2 separate regions of the Homo sapiens genome follow, and region 2 is linked to region 1. The links come from fine-mapping of genetic effects on gene expression. Tissue or cell type: neutrophils. Region 1 holds a variant in brackets; the other region holds the start of a gene. All regions are shown on one strand. Distances are between the middles of the regions.

What was found. PIP is the estimated chance that this variant, and not a neighbour inherited with it, causes the effect.
Region 2: IDH3B starts here. The variant in region 1 is fine-mapped to the expression of IDH3B in neutrophils (CEDAR, PIP 0.95).

Annotation. Positions count from the first base shown.
Region 1 is chr20:2,904,546-2,914,575 of GRCh38, forward strand. The region is part of intron 1 of PTPRA (protein tyrosine phosphatase receptor type A); the gene reads left to right. Among named protein-coding and RNA genes, the nearest start is that of PTPRA, 36 kb to the left of the region's middle. The variant T/G (reference allele first, on the strand shown) is at 5,317.
Region 2 is chr20:2,659,578-2,669,607 of GRCh38, forward strand. IDH3B (isocitrate dehydrogenase (NAD(+)) 3 non-catalytic subunit beta) reads right to left here and starts at 4,639. Exons shown (of 12, transcript NM_006899.5): 1 at 4,576-4,639; 2 at 4,348-4,428; 3 at 4,083-4,181; 4 at 3,869-3,989; 5 at 1,332-1,392; 6 at 1,120-1,252; 7 at 880-1,013; 8 at 686-788; 9 at 453-599; 10 at 122-216; 11 at 1-8. The coding sequence starts at 4,611. IDH3B-DT (IDH3B divergent transcript) reads left to right here and starts at 4,697. Exons shown (of 3, transcript NR_186432.1): 1 at 4,697-5,029; 2 at 5,681-5,927; 3 at 7,931-9,876. RefSeq lists enhancers at 2,916-3,703, 5,277-6,062.

The DNA of each region.
Region 1 (10,030 bases):
GCGGTCCCAGCTACTCGGGAGGCTGAGCTGGAAGAATCACTTGAACCCAGGAGGCAGAGTTGCAGTGAGCCGAGATCACACCACTGCATTCTAGCCTGGCTAGAGAGCAAGACTCCGTCTCAAAAAAAAAAAAAAAAAAAGAATAGGCAAATAACTAGAGAAAAATAGTCCAGAAACAGACCTGAATATATATAGGAATTTAGAATATGAAAGTGTCAGTGTGTAGGAAGGAGTGAAATGAAAAAAGAAAGAAAAAAGGAATATGTTGAAAGTGGCATTCAGAAATCAGGGAGAAAATGATCGATTACTAAGAATGATCCTGTAACAGTGGGCTGTTTGGGGAAAAATACGTAAAGATTTCTAATTTAGACTATATTCAAATAATCACCAAATTATATAGAGCAGGGATACCCAACCTCCAGGCCACAGACCATCCTGTTAGGAACTGGGCCACACAGCAGGATATGAACTTTAGGCCAGGGAACATTACACCTGAGCTCTGCCTCCTGTCAGATCAGCAGCAGCATTAGATTTTCATAGGAGCACAAACCCTACTGCGAACTGTACACTCCAGGGATCTAGGTTGTGTGCTCCTTATGAGAATCTAATGCCTGATGATCTGAGGTGTTGCAGCTTCATCCCAAAATCTGAAACCATATCCTCCACCCCTCCATTTCATAGAAAAATTGTCTTCCACAAAACTGGTCCCTGGGTGCCAAAAAGATTGGAGACCGCTGATAATAGAGTATATATAATCAAATTACAGAAATAACCACACTCTATTCTTCCTCTAGAATATACTGAATGTTTCCTAAGAAAAGTTGAACACTCATGGCTGGTTGGCTGCTCTCTAGCACATCTTGCCTTCGTCTCTCACTAGTTGAATTTTACACTTCCAGGGGTCAGTATGTTTGTTCCAAATCTGCTTATGCCAGTTACATTTAGTACTGTAATTTTATAATTTAATTAAACATTAACTAATGAAATATGACTGCAAAAAGTAGTTGTTTTTAGGAAAATTAAGTTGTAGATCTTGAACAAATTGGATAAATACAAATCCCCTTTTCCCCTTTTCACCAAATTACTGTCTTACTAATTGTGGGCGTGAATATTTTGAAAGATTGGGGGTGGAAATCATAAAATTCTTTTTTTTTTTTTTTTTTTTTTTTGCTCTTGTTTCCCAGGCTAGAGTGCAATGGTGTGGTCTCAGCTCACCACAACCTCTGCCTCCTGGGTTCAAATGATTCTCCTGTCTCAGCCTGCCGAATAGCTGGGATTACAGGCATGCGCCACCACACCTGGCTACTTTTTTGTATTTTTAGTAGAGACATAGTTTCTCCATGTTGGTCAGGCTGGTCTCGAACTCCTGACCTCAGGTGATCCACCCGCCTCGGCCTCCCAAAGTGCTGGTATTACAGGTGTGAGCCACCACACCTGACCTCGTAAAATTCTTAAACGATCTATACTCAGTTGTCTTACAGTTGCCTAGATTCTTGTTCCATTTAAAGAAACTGAAATTTGAAATCACAAATGTGGATTATGGATATGATGGGTTATGGATATGATATATTTGTAATGAATATGCAAGAGAGAACATTTGAAACATTAATTAGTAGAAATGTACTTAAAGAAGAGGCCTTGGTTTTTTACCGTAATATTGGCAGGTGACATGTATTTGTTTTGAGTAAAAATCAAATATTTCAGTTACATTTTTAAAATTACCTGATATACTGTACTTTTTCATGTAACCAGTCAGCCCTGAGTCCTATTTGTGTTAGATAAGTTTTTACCAATCCCAGAAGGAGATAGAGGACAAGCTTTTATATGCTTCGGCTGAAGAAAACCTTTCTCCAAAGAAGTAATTATCTGATCCTCCTATAAAGGGCCAGATAGTAAATATTTTAGATTTTGCAGGCTGAAGTAGAATCAAGGGTAATACGTACGTTCTGATATAACAAGAGAGAAAACAAATTTTGAGAAATTTCTTAATTGATTAAATTCAAAATAATAAACACAATTTATTGAAATACAGGTATACTAATGAGAAGAATGGAGTTCTTTTCGGAGTGATAACATTTTCTTAATTGGAGTTCAGAGTTAGTGCTTCCTATTCAATAAATAATCATCAAAATTGATTGCAAGTATTTATCTATTAATGCAGGTCTGTAATGAGGTTTTATATATTTCATCTTTGACATGTCTTCACACATACATGTCAAATAATTGATACCAGCCCATAAACATATGATTTTAATTGAGCATATTAATAACTCAGGAAGCATTTATAGAATTAGGTTTTTCTTATAACATTTACCTTTTAGTATATTATTCATTGCTGCTTAATTACTTCCAATGGAAGGTTAGACAGAAGCTCCACAATTGCACTGTTAAATAGATACTGAAATATAGATATTTCCTTGTGCATTAAGGTCCTAAAAATTATTCTGGAAATGTAGTGTGAGCTAAGAAACTATATCCACTGCAAATTTGTTTGGGAATGGAGATCTCACTTCTTGTTTTAACTTTTGATAGCATGTAAAGTGTATAAAGCAGCTCAACGTTGCTTATGATTCAAAAGTTAGTTGTCTAAATAACAACAGTTTAAGTTTCATATATAAGTGTTGTTCTGTCCTGTAATTTTAAGTTGAATTTACTATTATAAAATTAGCAAAAGCTAATTCTCAAAGCCATTTATTGTTTGATCATAGTGTCTGAAAGCAGTCTTATTGTTGTGAAAAATTTCAATCTCAGTTCCAAGCTGAAAAGAAAAAAAAAAAAGCATGATAAAACTTTAGTACAGCTCAGCCGTCAAACTGCTGTGTGCCTGGGCAAGTCAGGTTATTCAGCTTCTGTTTCTGACAATGGTTAAGCCCATGGCAGTGAATGAAATTCACCATTAACATGGTTGGTTTAATAATTCATGATAAATTCAGATATTTTTCATAGAATATCTATTGATAAAAAACATGAATAACCACCTTACATTTTCACGTTTTATAAATCACCCAACTAAGCCTTTTTCTGCTTCACACATATTTTTACCATTATCAATGATAACGTATCTGAGATTCCACTTTAGGTTATATGGAATTAGTACTTTTTCACCTTCTTGTTTGTAGTTGTTCAACACAGACTATTCATAGAAGCTAATTCTTCAGTTGTTTTAAACTTGGCACTGACTCCTTGAATAAACATCTGAACAGTGTTGTAACATCTATCAAACTCATTCAAAAGAGATGGAAATCTACTTAACCTCAATTGCCTTGGTTTTTTTTTTAAACAGATTATTGATCTTGCTCCTAATATTTTCGACTTTTAGAGCAAATGATTTTGTTGAAAGGCTAATAGTCTTTTTTTCTTTTTAAATTATCTTATATTAAATTTAAAAAATAATTTTTTTGTTACCTGTCTGGAGAAAGCCTAGAGAAAGGCTAATTAATACTCTTAAACAAGTTTATTTTCTCTGGATACATTTCTTCAGCTTCTTCATGATTTAATTCACTTATCACTAGAATATTACTTTTCTTGCTTTGCTAACAAATGAGCTACTTAGAAACTTCCCTCCTTTACAAACTTTCTATTCCTTACCTTCCCTCCTTGCTGTAATGAAATATTCCACTTTAAATTTTCAAATTTTTCTGACCATTGCTTTCCTGTGAATCGGAAATACTGTGATCGGTCCTTAGTTTGGTAACATTGATGTATTTTGAATTCTTTTAGCACAGACAGACAGTTGACTCCTTGAACAACGCAGTTTCAAACTGCACAGGTCCAATTATATGAGAATTTTTTTTCAATAAATACAATCAGCAGTTTATACATATACAACCAAACGTGGATCAAAAATACGTTATTTGAGGAAACCCCCAGATACAGAACAGTGAAATTTTTGTATCCTCTGGGCCACTGTGGGACTTGAGTGTGCATAGATTTTGGTATCCACGGTTGATCCACAGATACCAAGGGATGACCGTAGAGTCATTGCATAATAAACAAAATGCTTCCCTATCTTGTCTTGATAAAATAATGCATACCCTCCACTGTGCCTTAAAAGCATGACATTCAGGCTGGGTGTGGTGGCTCACACTTGTAATCCCAGCACTTTTGGAGGCCAGGGTGGGAGGATTGCTTGAGCCCAGGAGTTCAAGACCAGCCTTGGCAACATAGTGAGAGTCCATCTCTAGTTTTAAAAAAATACAAAATTAAAAAAAATGAAAAACATGACATTCAAAGTGCATTTGTTTTTGTTTCGACATGATGGTTATGCACTAATAACTAATGATAGTTATGTACTAATAAAATGTCAAAATAATAACGACTTTTAGTTACTGATAACAGTTATGCATTAATAAAAAATAAAATGTCACAGTATGACAATATGCATGTGTGGCACCAAACATGCTGTTGAGTTATAACTTTGTGACTGTGATTTGTGGGATACTGAGCAGCAGTGGAAAGCTATATAAGCCACTCCACTCTGCCAGTCAGTACAGTGGCTGATTACCAATTATGGATAACCAGAACACATCAAAAAGCAGTTCAACAAGGATCAGAATAATAACATGTAAGTACCATTTATTAAGTAGTTATGTGTAAGGCACTGTGTCAGACTGTATAATGTACATTATTTAACCTTCAAAAGATTGAGAGGGAAGATCCCTTGAGTCTGGGAGGTCGAGGTTGCAGTTAGCTGTGATTGCACCACTGCACTCTAGCCTGAGTGATGGAGCGAAATCCTGTCTCAAAAAACAAAACAAAACAAAACAGGCCTGGTGCGGTGGCTCATGCTTGTAAATCCCAGCACTTTGGGAGGCTGAGGCTGAGGTCAGGAGTTTGAGACCAGCTGGGCCAACATGGCGAAACCACGTCTCTACTAAAAATACAGAAATTAGTTGGTGTGGTGGCTCACACCTATAATCCCAGCTACTCGGGAGGCTGAGGCAGGAGAATTGCTTCAACCCAGGAGGCGGAGGTTGCAGTGAGCCAAGATCATGCCACTGCACTCCAGCCTGGATGAGAGTGAGACTCCATCTCCAAAAAAAACCAAAACAAAACAAACGAAAACTACAAAAGATTGTCTGAAGCCAGCCACAGACAATAGTAAATGAATGAGTGCAGCTACATTCTTTCTTATTTATGGATGCAGAAGTTTGAATTTCATATAATTTTTCCGTTTCACTTATATATAAATTATATATTATATATTACATAATATATAATATATATTATAAGATAATATAATATATATTAGATAATATATATAATATAAGATAATATATATTAGATAATATATATAATATAAGATAATATATATTA[T/G]ATAATATAATTAAAATATATTAATTATAATATATAATATATGACATATATATGTTATATATTGTTATATATAATATGTGTAATTATATATTATAATATATGATATATATATAATCTATCATATATCATATATATAATCTATCATATATCATATATAATCTATCATATATCATATCATATATAATATATATCATATCATATATAATATATATGATGTATAGTATATATGATATATAACATATATATAATATATGATGTATAGTATATATGATATATAACATCATATATACTATACGTCATATATAATATGACGTATAGTATATATGATATATGATATATATACTATATTGTATATGATATATAATATGTATTGTATATTATATATAATATATATATAAGGCACAGTGGAGGGTATGCATTATATATAATATGTATTATATATTTTATATATTATAATATATATTTTATATATAATATATTTTGTATATTATATATTTTATATATAATATATTTTGTATATTATATATTTTATATATAATATATTTTGTATATTATATAATATATAAAATGTATATTATATATAAGTAAAGTATATATTATATATAATTTTTATATATACTTTTTTTTTTTTTTTTTTTTTAGACTGGATCTTGCTCTGTCACCCAGGCTGGAATGGAGTGGCTGGGACTACAGGTGTGTGCTATCATGCCCAGCTAGTTTTTTTTTTGTTTTTTTTTTGTTTTTTTTAATTTTTTTTTTTTTTTTAAGACGGAGTCTCGCTGTCACCCAGGCTGGAGTGCAGTGACATGATCTCGGCTCACTGCAAGCTCCGCCTCCCGGGTTCACACCATTCTCCTGCCTCAGCCTCCCAAGTAGCTGGGACTACAGGCACCCACCACACGTCCAGCTAATTTTTTGTATTTTTAGTAGAGACGGGGTTTCACTGTGTTAGCCAGGATGGTCTCGATCTCCGGACCTCATGATCCACCTGCCTTGGCCTCCCAAAGTGCTGGGATCACAGGTGTGAGCCACCGCACCCGGCCTACTTTTTATTTTAACTTTTTTTTTTTTTTTTGTAGAGATGTGGTCTCACTGTGTTGCCCAGGCTGGTCTCAATCTCCTGGGGTCAAACAGTGCTCCTGCCTCGGCTTCCCAAAATGTTGGTATTACAGGTATGAGCCACTTTGCCTGGCTATCTTATAAATAATTTTGATGTTAGGAATTTTTAGTTGCTTTTATTTTTATTTTTGTTGTTTTAAATATTTATTAATAGAAGCAAGGGGTGGATAAATCTTCTAGATCAAACTCTTCCTTAAAATAGTTCTGCTTTTGGTAGGATTCCAGATTTTCCTAGTTTTGTTAAGTGTTTCTAATGATGTTTGGCATAGGTGTTAACTTCATGGGCCTGTTGTATACAAACCAATTTTTTTCTTGCTCTGAGTGAACAGTAACAGAACCTGGTAGGTGAGTCACACTGATACTGCATTCACTGAAGTTACTAAGCTGAATGATAAGAGATGAGAATCCTTTGCATTTGTATTCAAATCAAGAGTTGTAGAATTTGAAATTCCTGTTTTGATGAACTATGTGAAGCATGCTGTCATTCTTCTCTGCTAGTCTATGTTGATGATGTCATTAAACTAGTCTTTGACTTTTAGTTCTTGGCTTAAAATATTGGAATGATTATATAATAAATAGGTTTATTTCATGTGGAAAAGGAATAATGTGTTTGCCCTGAAATAGTCTGATCTGATCAGGAGGATATTATGCTGAGCATGGCTGGAAATAAATTTGTAGCACCAATTAAATACACTGTAGCAGCTCTGAGAGGGAATAAAAGTAAAATATAAATAGTAAATATGAGAGAAAGTGACTATGGGATCTAACTATGTAAGAGCAGGGTGGGAGTATGGGTAGATACGTACATGCCCCCTAGATTTTAGGAAAGCATATTTCAAGAAGTAGAGAAGACATGGATATCAATCAGTGGAAATCGTATACTAAAACGGAAGTCAGTGAAAAAAAAAGACTGCTCTCAAACTAAAGATAGATGGTTGCTTCTAATAGGTAGGTATTCAGATTCGATTAAGAAATTAGAAGGCCGGGCATGGGGACTCAGGCCTATAATCCCAGTACTTTGGGAGGTCATGGTGGGCAGATCACTTGAGCCCAGGAGTTCGAGACAAGCCTGGGCAACCTGGTGAAACCCCATCTCCACAAAAAATACCAAAATTAATTAGCAGGGTGTAGAGGCACATGTCTGTATTCCCAGCTACTCAGGAGGCTGAAGTGAGAGAATCACTTGAGCCTGGGAGGTTGAGGCTACAGTGAGCCGAGATCACACCATTGCACTCCAGCCTGGGTGACAGAGTAAGACCCTATCTCAAAAAACAAATTTTGAAAATATACAGAAGTATAGAAAAACTGAAGTAATTTAATTTGTGTTAAAATCTGTTTGGTATTAAAACTAATGTTTGGCCGGGCATGGTGGCTCACGCCTATTAATTATCCTAGCACTTTGGGAGGCCGAGGCAAGTGGATTGCTTGAGCTCAGGAGTTCAAGACCAGCCTGGGCAACGTGGCGAAACTCCGTCTCTACAAAAAATACAAAAATTAGCTGGGCATGGTGGCTCACGCCCGTAGTCCCAGCTCCTTTGCAGGCTGAGGCAGGAGGATCACTTAAGTCCAGGAGGTGGAGGTTGAAGTGAGCTGAGATCGCACCTCTGCACTCCAGCCTGGGTGACAGAGTGAGACCCTGTCTCAAAAACAGACAACGACAAAAAACCCTAATGTTTTATGAAAAAGCTCTTTAATTTTTCGTGACCAAACTGCTATTCTCTAGACCTACACTGTCCAAAATGATAGCCATTAGCCATGTGTGCTACTGTGTTGGACAGCACGTATTTAGAACATTTCCAACATCACAAAAGTTCTATTGCAGAATGCTATGAAAATGAGATACACTTTCATTAGAAAAGCTAGTAAAAATAAGTAGGGGTAATGGGGTACTTTGACTATCCAGAAATTTTACTAAGGAAGAATTAGATTTTTATAATACTGGGACATTAGTGTGCACTTTTTTTGTCGTAATTGCATTTTGTTTTTTATTTTGAAATAAATACATGTACAGAAAAATTGCAAGAATAGTTACAGAGTCTTTTCGCTCCCTGAACCATTAGAGAGTGAGCCCCATCAGCCCCAAATACTTTAATGAGCATTAAATCTGGAGTTTGGCCGGGCACGGTGGCTCACGCCTGTAATCCCAGCACTTTAGGATGACGAGGTGGGCAGATCATTTGAGGTCAGGAGTTTGAGACCAGCTTGGCCAACATGATGAAAACCTGTCTCCACTAAAAATACAAAAAAATGAGCCGAGCTTGGTGGTGCACACCTGTAATCCCAGCTACTCAGGAGGCTGAGGCATGAGAATCACTTGAACCTAGGAGGCGGAGGTTGCAGTGAGCTGAGATTGTGTCACTGCATTCCAGCCTGGGTGACAGAGTGAGACCCTGTCTCCAAAAATAAAATAAAATAAATCTGGAGTTTAATACCAGTACAGTACTACCAGCTTATCTTCAGGCCCCATTCGAGTTATTCTAGTTGTCCCCAAAAGGTGAAGGATCCAGTTTAAAATCACACATTGCATTTAGTTGTCATGTCTGTCTTTGACTTGATCGCCTTGACACTTTTGAAGATTACAGGCTCATTATTTTGAGGAAGTCATTAACATGGACCTGATGTTTCTTCATCTTTAGATTCAGATTATGCATTTTATCAGAATTGCCACATAAATTGTGCTGTGTTCTTATTTTATCCATCCAGGTACTACATAATTTCCATGTGTCCCATTTTTCTTGATGTTAACCTTGGTCACTTGATTAAGATTGTGTCTGCCAGTTTTCTCTACCATACATTTAACTATTTTTTCCTTTATAATCAGTATTTTATGAGGAGGAGGAGGAGGTACTTTGAGACAATGTAAGTATCCCATTCCTCATCAAACTTTCACCTTCTAGTTTTAGCACCCATTGAAATTTTTTTGCTGGATTATTGGTATGATGGCTGCCAAATGATGATTTTCTAATTTCATCATCCCTTCTACATCCATTCATTGACATTTCATTGAAAGGAAAAACTGTTTTCTTCCCATTTATTTAACTTATATCAATATGGACTTACGGATTCATATTTTATTCAATAAGTTATCTATTAGTGTACTTTGGTACTTTGATGCTGAGTTTGTCCCAGATTTGGTCAGTGGAAACCCTGTCAAGCTGGCTTCTGTATCCTTTTGACATTGTCCTATCATTCTTTGATCACTTTCCTCTTTCTGGGACCAGATATGATCAAAGCCCTTCTTATACTTTTCCTGCCCTACCTCTGGAATCATTTCACCAAGGTACCCTGGTTCCCTTTATTGAAGAATGTATTTAGAGGTTAGGTCTGGACAGTAGATGGCATTGTTCCACTGAGGTGTCACTGCTCCTAGACTTTCTCAGCAGACAGAGCTAGAGCATATATGCATGTATATACATACACAAACATACATCCACACACATAGACTCATTTTTTTATTTCTTGCTCTGTGTGTGTGTGTGTGTGTGTGTGTGTGTGTGTGTACTGTGAGTTCACACTGGTACCTAGTACCTCAACACCTCAGAGTTCATTTTATTTTTCTTCCTTTTTGTATTTGTAACTCCCTTCTCTGACAGAG
Region 2 (10,030 bases), 240 kb before region 1:
ACTCAAGACTGTGGATATGGACAGGAAGAAACTGTGACTCCCCCAAGACACCTCCCGCTAATTTCCCCACCTGCTCCTCCTCACGACACCCAACCTCTGCCGACAGCCTCCCATGACCTACTTAAGATGCCGCAGCATGTTGGAAGCCGACAGCAGCATGGCCGTGGGATTGGCTATATTCCTGCCCACTGCCTGGGCAAATGGGTGCCGGGCACCCTGTGGAGAGAGGGGCAGGCTAGACACTGGGAGGAGGCAGGAGGGGTATGCAGAGGCTTAGGTTGGAAAAGGACATTATGGGAGGGGGAGCTCAGGCCAGGGTCACTGAAAAGAGGCATGGTGGGCAGCGTGGGGGAAGAACAGGCCAAGATCACTTAGGAAGTGGAGATATTGGGATGGGAGAGGAATGGCGGACTTGAGGTCAGAGGAAGGGCCGAGGGAGAAAGCAGCCTCACCGTCTCAAAGACTGCGTATTCTGCACTATAGCTCTCACCAGGGACCACACCAGCTCCCCCAACCAGGCCAGCAGCCAGATTGTCAATAATGTTCCCATAGAGATTGGGCATCACAAGCACATCAAACTGGTAAGGATTCTGCACCAGCTAGAGGGTGAGATGCAGGCATGAAGTAAATTCCACTCCCCACCCTCCTCCTCCGCCCCATGAGTAGAGATGTGGGGAGGCCTCACCTGCATGCAGCAGTTGTCTATGATCATTGTCTCAAATTTGATTTTGGGGTACAGTTCAGCAACTTCCTCACAGCACTGCAGGAACAACCCATCCCCAAGTTTCCTGTCCATGGGCCAAAGGGGACAGAATCAGCCAAGAAAGTACAGGGGCTACCTTCCCAGGAACCCATCCTACACAAAGCCATGCCCCTCACATGATGTTGGCCTTGTGGACAGCAGTGACCTTGCCCCGCCCCTTCTTGGTGGCATAGTCAAAGGCGAACTTTGCAATCCGCTGAGACTTGGCTCGTGTGACAATCTTCAAACACTCAATCACACCCCTTGCACTCTGGGTAAGAAGAAAGCAGCAGCTAGGTGACACTGGGAAGGGAAACAAGGAGCTCCACCTCTCTCCCATCTTCATCCTTGCCCTCCCCCAGTTTCTGGGGCCTCACCTCATGTTCCAGAGAGCTGTACTCCCCTTCTGTCTGCTCTCGAATGATCACCAGGTCTAGATTGTTGTGCCGAGTCATATACCCAGGAAGTGACTTCACATGGACTACGTTGGCAAATAAGTCCAACTTACGCCTGAGGGTGGGCAGGGCCATCAGCTCTGCTCCTGGTGCCCTGGCACCTCTCAACCATTCACCCCACCCAGACCACCTACCTCAGCCGCATATCATAGGAGGCTAGCTCCCCCTTATACTCCATCGGGGTATGAATCTTTCCTGTGAAAACAAAGTGGGAAAAGGAGTGTCAGCCACAGGCCAAGCCCAAGGGAACTCAGACCAGTGTCTAACCCCCTTAGGAACATCATGTAACCCAGACTCCCATCTCCCATTCCCACATCAGTAAACTTTTAAATTGTCTCTGGGGGCAAGGGACAAAAGAGAATAATGTAGTTAAAGCCAGAAACATTTCATCTATTGCATTTTCTGTGTGTGTGTGTGTGTGTGTGTGTGCGTGTGTGAGAGACACAGGGTCTCACTCTGTCGCCCAGGCTGGAGTGCAGTGGCACGACCTGGGCTCACTGCAACCTCTGCCTCCCAGGTTCAAGCAATTCTCCTGCCTCAGCCTCCCCAGTAGCTGGGATTACAGGCATGTGCCACCACACCTGGCTAATTTTTTGTATTTTTAGTAGAGGCAGTGTCTCACCATGTTGGCCAGGCTGGTCTCAAACTCCTGACCTCAAGTGATCCACCCGCCCCGGCCTTAATGCTTTATTTTTAGTCAACATATTTAATTTATGTTGAAACTTCAAAACGGAGAACAGATTTTTTCTATTTATCAAAAAAGAGCCTGGGTTTAACAACAAGTTGAAAAACAATGCTAGCAGATCTGTGATCTTTTTATCTGTGCCTTCTCCTTATTTGACATTTTTTAACCCAACACCTACTGATGAATATCAATTATATGTCAGGCAATAAGGATAACAACTAAAACCATACAACTCCTGCCCTTGAGAAGCAAACGGTACACTGGGAAAGACAGAAAATATGAAAGACATGATAAGTACCATGGGAAACTTGCATAGCAACACAAAGAGGAAATCCTCTCCAGTAATATCAGGATACAGCACAGAAGAGCTGGCACTTCAGCCATGCCTTGAGCCCCAGAACCTATGTATGTGACCTTATTTGGGAAAAGAGGCTTTGCAGATGTAATTAAGTTAAGGATCTTGAGAAAAAATCGTCCCATCCAGGGCTAAATATTTGAGGAGAAAAATGATACCGAGACAGAGAGGGAAGAAAACCACAGATATTGGAGTGATGCATCTACAAGTCAAAAAACAGCAAGAGCCACCAGAAGAGGCAAGAAAGGTTTCTCCCCTAAACCTTCAGAGGGAGCAGGGCCCTGCCAACACCTTAATTTCAGACTGATGGCCTCCAGCACTGTGAGAGAATACATTTCTGTTAATGATAAGCCACCAGGTTCATGGTAGTGTGTTACGGCAGCTATGGGAAACTAATACAGTGAATGAGTGAGAAGGACTCTAACAGGTAGCACCAAAGAAAGAACGTTCTGGGTGGAGGGAACAATATAAGTCAGGTAGTACATATTTGGAATCTAACACACAATCTAGTGTGATTGAAGCACAGAACAAGAGTTGTGGAACCAAGGCAGAAAATTAAGGGCCAACTTATAAAGTACTGACTTTCCTATGGTAAGGCTGGGCCTGGAAAATCAGGCTGTTCTTTCCAAGAAGAGATATGGAAGATGAACTATAGGGGCAGAACTAGAAGCCAAAAAAATCAAATGAGGAGATTAAAGCGCGGAAGACAAAAGAAAAGGGGCAGCTAGGCACGGTGGCTCACGCCTATAATCGCAGCAGTTTGGGATGCAGAGGTGGGTGGATCACTTGAGGTCAAGAGTTCGAGACCAGCCTGGCCAACATGGTAAAACCCTCTCTCTACTAAAAATACAAAAATTAGCCTGGGCATGGTGGCTCACACTTGTAATCCCAGCACTGTGGGAGGCCAAGGCGGGCAGATCACAAGGTCAGGAGTTCGAGACCAGCCTGACCAACATGGTGAAACCCCATCTCTACTAAAAATACAAAAATTAGCCAGGCATGGTGGCACGCTCCTGTAATACCAGCCAGCTACTCAGGAGGCTGAGGCAGGAGAATCACTTGAACCCGGGAGGCAGAGGTTGCAGTGAGCTGAGATGGCAACATTGCACTCCAGCCTGGGCGACAGAGCGAGACTCTGTCTTAAAACAAAACAAACACAAAAATTAGCTGGGTGTGGTGGTGCACACCTGTAGTCGCAGCTACTCAGGAGGCTGAGGCAGGAGAATTGCTTGAACCAGGGACGGGGAGGTTGCAGTGAGCCGAGATCGCGCCACTGCACTCCAGCCTGGGCGACAGAGCAAGAAGAAACAAAGAGGAAGGAAGGGAGGGGAAAAAAAAAAAAAGAAAAGGGGCAGCTAAAAGTGGTATTCCAGAAATGCAATGAATAAGATTTGATGACAGTTGATGTAGCCTCAGGACAGACTCAGAACCCCTGGAACTTTTCTGCATAGACAGCTGACATGATCTCTCAACTCCTGGGCTCCCAATGGGAAGGAACAAATGTCCAAATACCAATGGTGGTTGCCCTGGAGTTAATATAATTGCATAGCATGTGGGGAGAAGGGCTTAATAAACATTTGGTCATTTGATTTTAAATGGCACATGGACAAGTGGCAAGAGGGCACACATACCAATGATGGCCACTTTGTTCTCCTTCATGGAACTCAGCACCTGCTCCAGCTTCTCCTCAGATGCCATATTCTGCACCTCACTCAGGTGGTGCTCCTGGAACTCCACTGGGACAGCGGCAGCCTTCAGAGACAGGTTCCCAAAACATCACAGTCAAGGCCAAGTCCTTTCCAACACACTACTGTCCTCTACTGTCTGATCCCCGAGGCCACTCACCTTGAACACCTCCTTGACGGCGTGCATCAGCTCAGGCCCCACACCGTCTCCCGGAAGCATGGTCACGGGAAAGGAGCCCTCCACCCTCACGTCCTCGGCCTCAATTGGGGGAAGAGGGGAGAAGTAAAGATAGAGCTGGGGCGGGAGCACGGATCCTGGGAGTAGAGAAGTAGGGAGACCCGGGAGGGGTGGGGAAAAGCCAGGGGAGGGAGCAGCGAGGAAGGGACAGGGTCGTAAGAGAGACCCCAGCCAGATTCGTGCATACCTGGCTCCGCGATGCAGCGTGCGCCGCGGCCGAGGTACTCAGACCTCTCCATGCCCCAGGGTTCCCGGCGGAGACCAGCGCCTGCAACAGGGACACACAAGCCTGTAAGGTCAGCTTTGAGACATCCAGACCCCGAACACTACAGTTGACTTTGCCCTGTTTAGGAAACCCTAGGACAAACTCTCCGCTCCTTCGCCCGCCCCTGCCCGACATGTCCCGGGGCCTCACTCGGGTCAGCCAGCGGACTCCGCTCAATGCCGCCATGTTTCCCGCAGGAAGTCGCGTGGGAAGTGACGCCTGAAGCTGGCGCGGCCCCGTACCCCGACTTCCGGCCTGTACTGAGTTCCTGGTATTTCTCTCTCTGCGCCAACCAGCACTGCTTGCTCACGCCTGTTTCTCCTTTTCCTTGCCGGTGGGGAGGTCATGGGATGCGCAAGCACTTTGTCTCTTGCTTTGTTTTCAGTCGCCATATTTAATCTACGTCGAAACTTCAAAATAACATTAGGGGGAAAAATGTAGCGTCATGTTTATCAGACGAGGACCTGAGCTTAACAAGCGATTGAGAGAAAATCCTTGGGAAGCTGTTAAAATTTGTGTGTCAATGCGTTTGTTATTCTTTTAACCAGTACTCACTGAATACCTGTATGTCAGGCTCTCGAGGAATACAGTACAGACATGGGAGGTGTGTGTCGGGTTTCTCCGCCAGTCTCCGAGAGTGCCCAGGACCTCTGTATTACCCGTCGCCTCGTAGTTTTTTCTTACAGGGTTTTGTTCTTTGCTCTGACAGTTATTTCCCTAATAGTGTGTCCCGGACTTGAACTCCCCAGGACAGGCCCATAACTAGTGTCAGAAATGAGTTCAAGCGTGTAAGTGTGACTAAAGGGAATTTCAGACTGATCCTTAAAGTAACAATCATAAAAACTAAAAAAAGCCTGGACAACATAGGGAGACCTCGACTCTACAAAAAATTTAAAAATTAGCCAGGCGTGGTGACACACCTGTAGTCCCAGCTACTTAGGAGGCTGAGGTGGGAGGATCACTTAAGCCCGGGAGGTGGAAGCCGTAGTGAGCCGTGATGGCACCACTGCACTCCAGCCTGGGAGACGGGGCGAGACCCGTCTCAAAACAATTACAGTCACGATTTTTTTTTTTTTTTTTTTGAGACAGAGTCTCGCTCTGTCGCCCAGGCTGGAGTGCGGTGGTGCGATCTCGGCTCACTGCAAGCTCCGCCTCCTGGGTTCACCCCATTCTCCTGCCTCAGCCTCCCGAGTAGCGCCCGCCATCACACCTGGCTAATTTTTTTTTTTTTTTTTTTTTTTTTTTGTATTTTTAGTGGAGACGGGGTTTCACCGTGGTCTCGATCTCCTGACGTCGTGATCCGCCCGCCTCGGCCTCCCAAAGTGCTGGGATTACAGGCGTGAGCCACCAAGCCCGGCCTCCAGTCACGATTTTAGGTGTGTACAATTGACACACCTAAAGACAAACTGGTACAGGAAGATTTGCCTCACCCGCTCTTCTGGAAGTATGGTTTTGGATCACCTATCCAGATGGACCAGAGCTCTTGTTAAAAGTGCAGGCTTGTGAGTCATACTTCATTTGCTGAATCCAAATCTCAGTGATGGGGGCCCAGAAAATATATCTCTAACAGGCTCCCCGTTAATACACACTGAAATTTAAGAACCACTAGCTAGGTTCTCTGTGATAAGTTCCTCCTTCGTATATACCTCAACCAGCCAAAAAGGTGGCAACGCAAAGGCATTCCCAGTGCTTCTATTCTTGGGGAATATGCATAGGCTTTGTGCCTCCTCTGCAATCCTTTAGGTGCGACATTCTCCTATATAGTAGTAGGATGAGAAGATTAAACTAGGTAATGTGTAAGAGTTTTGAACAAATGAAAAGTACTGGGTAAATATAGAGCTGTTATTATAGCTAATATAATATTAGTATAACACACTCCTCTATTTCCATTCATATATCCCATGAAACCAACCAAAACCAGAGAGCACCACCGTCTTGCTCCCATAGACTCCCTCGTCCCAGCTTCCACATCACTATTAATATTCGTCACTATTTTTCTTCTCCAAATATTTCTCCTTCTGACTAAGAAAAAAATGGAAGATTTATAACCTCTGCCTCCCGGGTTCAAGCGATTTTCCTGCCTCCGCCTCCCTGGTAGCTGGGATTACAGGCACGCGCCACCACACCCGGCTAATTTTTGTATTTTTATTAGAGACAGGGTTTCACCATGTTGGCCAGGCTGGTCTTGAGCTCCTGACCTCAGGTGATCTGCCACCCTCAGCCTCCCAAAGTGCTGGGATTACAGGCATGAGCCACCGCACCCCGCCAAATTTACTCTTTTTAAAAAACTACATTTTCTGTTACGTCAGGAAATGTGGGATAAGAAAGAAGAGAGATGTACCATCTTAATCCAATCTCTGATAATAATCTAATTTTCTTGAGGGTGACTACATCATTTCCATCCCTAAATTCTGCACAGACTTGTTCCCCACCTAACACTCAAAAAATATCTGCTAACTGATAAAACACTAAGTGGCCATCACCAGGGTGAAAGGAACTGATGGAGGTTACCAGTGGACACAGGCCAAGGAGATGAGACCATTATTGTCTGAAGGCCACTGTGTTCTCCCCATGAACTCAGCAAGCTCTCCTGGCCTTCAAGTCCCCATGAGGGCATCTTTGACCAATACTGCCTGATAATGGAGAAATCCTGTCAGGACCTTTGAAAAGTTTCTTAACCTATCTCCTGGGGGATGGGAGGGAGGTTATACCATCTTGTTCTCTTCTAACTGTTGTGGAGTCTCCTCTGCTTAGCACAAGAGGCTATAATGATGGATGAGCTGCCTACACTTGAGTGTTCAGTGTGAAGCTGAGTGACTTGAATGTCTGCTTCCCAGGCCTGCAAATCCTCCAGCACAGGAGTCCTGACTTGGGATCTACAGAACCCCCTAGGTGTCCATGAATAGGAATCAGCACTGTGAACCTGGATGGGGGAAAAACCAAAAATCACATCTTTATTCTCACTAACCTCTAACTGAAGTTTAGCATTTCCTTTCATTATGAATGCAGGTCACAGATTACAGTGCTGCCTGTAGTACTCTTGACTTTGTCAATCATAAAAAGTATAGATATTTTCATACCACATTTTAGTTGTAGTAGATCTCTCAAAATATCACTTACTTTAATCCTATTTTTACATTATTTGACCCAATGCTAGATTGTGTTATTTAATGAATTAATAAAGCAGCAAACATAGTAGTATGTTACAAGGTAGCTTTTATTCCTTTTCTCCTTTTAGAGAGATGGTTTCAGTCTGTTCCCCAGGCTAGGGTGTGATCACGGCTCACTGTAACCTCAAACTCCTGGGCTCAGGTGATCCTCCCACCTCAGCCTCCCAAGTAGCTGGGACTACAGGCATGCGCCACCATGCCTAGCTAATTTTTAAATATTTTGTAGACATGAGGTCTTGCTATGTCGCCCAGGCTTGTCTTAATCATATTTGTCTTGTAATTCTATTTATTTTATATACTTAAAAGTCTCTTTTTTTTTTTTTTTTTGGAGACAGAGTCGCTCTGTTGCCCAGGCTGAAGAGCAGTGGGCGATCTCAGCTGAGTGCAAGCTCCACCTCCCGGGTTCACACCATTCTCCTGCCTCAGCCTCCGGAGTAGCTGGGACTACAGGCGCCCGCCACCACGCCCAGCTAATCTTTTTGTATTTTTAGTAGAGACAGGGTTTCACCGTGTTAGCCAGGATAGTCTCGATCTCTTGACCTCGTGATCCACCCGCCTCGGCCTCCCAAAGTGCTGGGATTACAGGCATGAGCCACTGCACCCGGCCTAAAAGCCTCTTCTAAGAAAGGTTCCACAGGCTTCACCAGCCTTCCAAAGAGGTCCGCTGCACACAAAAGTTTCAGAATTTCTGGTGTATTAGGCCTACTGGATCTTTTTCTGAAACCATGAACAATCAAAAGAGTAATATAACCAATGACAATTCCTTGAAAATTAACGTCTGAAAAAGCTTCTTGGGAGAATTTGATCTGTGATTGAAAGGATAAACAGAATTACAGAGGAGAAGTGATTACACTCAGGGAAAATGGAAATGTAAGCAAAGCTACTGTTTCAGATCAACTGCCCTAGAAGCAGAGCCCAAGACAGGGATTCTATGCAATTGACCTGTTGAAGGAGTGCTCTCAGGAGAAACACATCAGAAGGTGAATGAGCAGAATATGGAGGGGAAGGAGCTCAGCAAGATGTGGCCTCAGCCAGAGTCCACCTCAGCCCCATCTCCTGGGGAGCTCTGGAGCATTAGTGACAACTCAAGGTTGTCATGATTTGAGACAAGGCTTAACAACCCTGCTTTGCCCCTGCATGGCATAGGCCAGGGCCAATCCTTCAGAGAAGGGGGAAGCTTTGAGCCGTTAGTGGCAAATACCTGAAGCAACTGGGGGAATGGATACACCAGCTTGCCAAGAGGACCTGGCCAAGGCAGACACTACCTTGCGGAGGTGACAGTGAACATAGCGTGCTGACGAACAGTGAGGTGGGCAGATATATTTGAGGAGATGAGTTATAGTGAGGATTGGTGAGTAAGTAGGACTGGTGCATGTTCAAGGTCCGAGAGAAACAGAGAGAGTTTTGTGAGCAATACTAAGCACCCTGTTGAGGTTGGTGACCATGAAGTTTATTGTGGTGCAATTGTGTGTGATTTCACGGTGAGAGCAAACCAAAAGTGAGTTCATCCAAAAGTGATATTTTGCTAGAGAGTGGTACAAGGGAGTTGAGAGTGTTGGCAAAATGGGATCAGGAGGCAAGTGAAGACAGAAGAGATCTAATCAACAGGCAGCTGAGGAAAGAATCAAAGACCCCCCCAAAATATTCAAAGAGTAGTACTTGTGGGAGTTGTTGAGCAAGTAACATGGGAAGAGAGGACGCTGCTTCCACCAGTGGTTTTGGAGGTGGAGTAGATGCTGGTGATAATGAAGTCCCAGATAGGAAATGGGAGTGGATGCCAAGGAGATCTCAAGGACCCTGCAGATGAGGACTCAAACCCACAATATTGATGAGGCATCCATGTCACCATGGGAGTCAACGAGGATAGTGGCCTCAGCTGAGGCAGGGAAAAGCTGGGATCCAAGTGACATAGTCTTCTCTTGATAAGCAAGAGAGACCAGGAGATGAGAGATGGCAGAGAATGAGAGAGGTGATATCAGTTACCAGAAAGAGCCCCTAAAAGGCAACACTTCTTTTTTTCCATTAGTTTTAATATAGAATTTTGCTTTAGTACTTTTAATTAGATAACCCTCTTTTAAAAATATATATTTTTTAAAATATATTTTTTTCTTACCATACCAACTCACAGCCCCAATCTTTTTGCCCTAACCTCAGAATCAGTTAGTTGTCCGCTTTAAAACCCTTTTCTTACACACACACACACACACACACACAGAATATATAGTATTGTTTTTGGTGTATGAGTGTGTGCGTCGGAATAAATGGTTTCATACTCTATATACTTACTGTTTTATAATTTACCTTCTTCACTCAACACTGTATCTCAGATGTCTTAGAGATCTAAGACACCATATCTTAGAGAATGAGCAGCCTCATTGTTTTATTCCGTAATATGAATTTACTAAATTTATTGGGCCTTTTTTTTTGAGACAGAG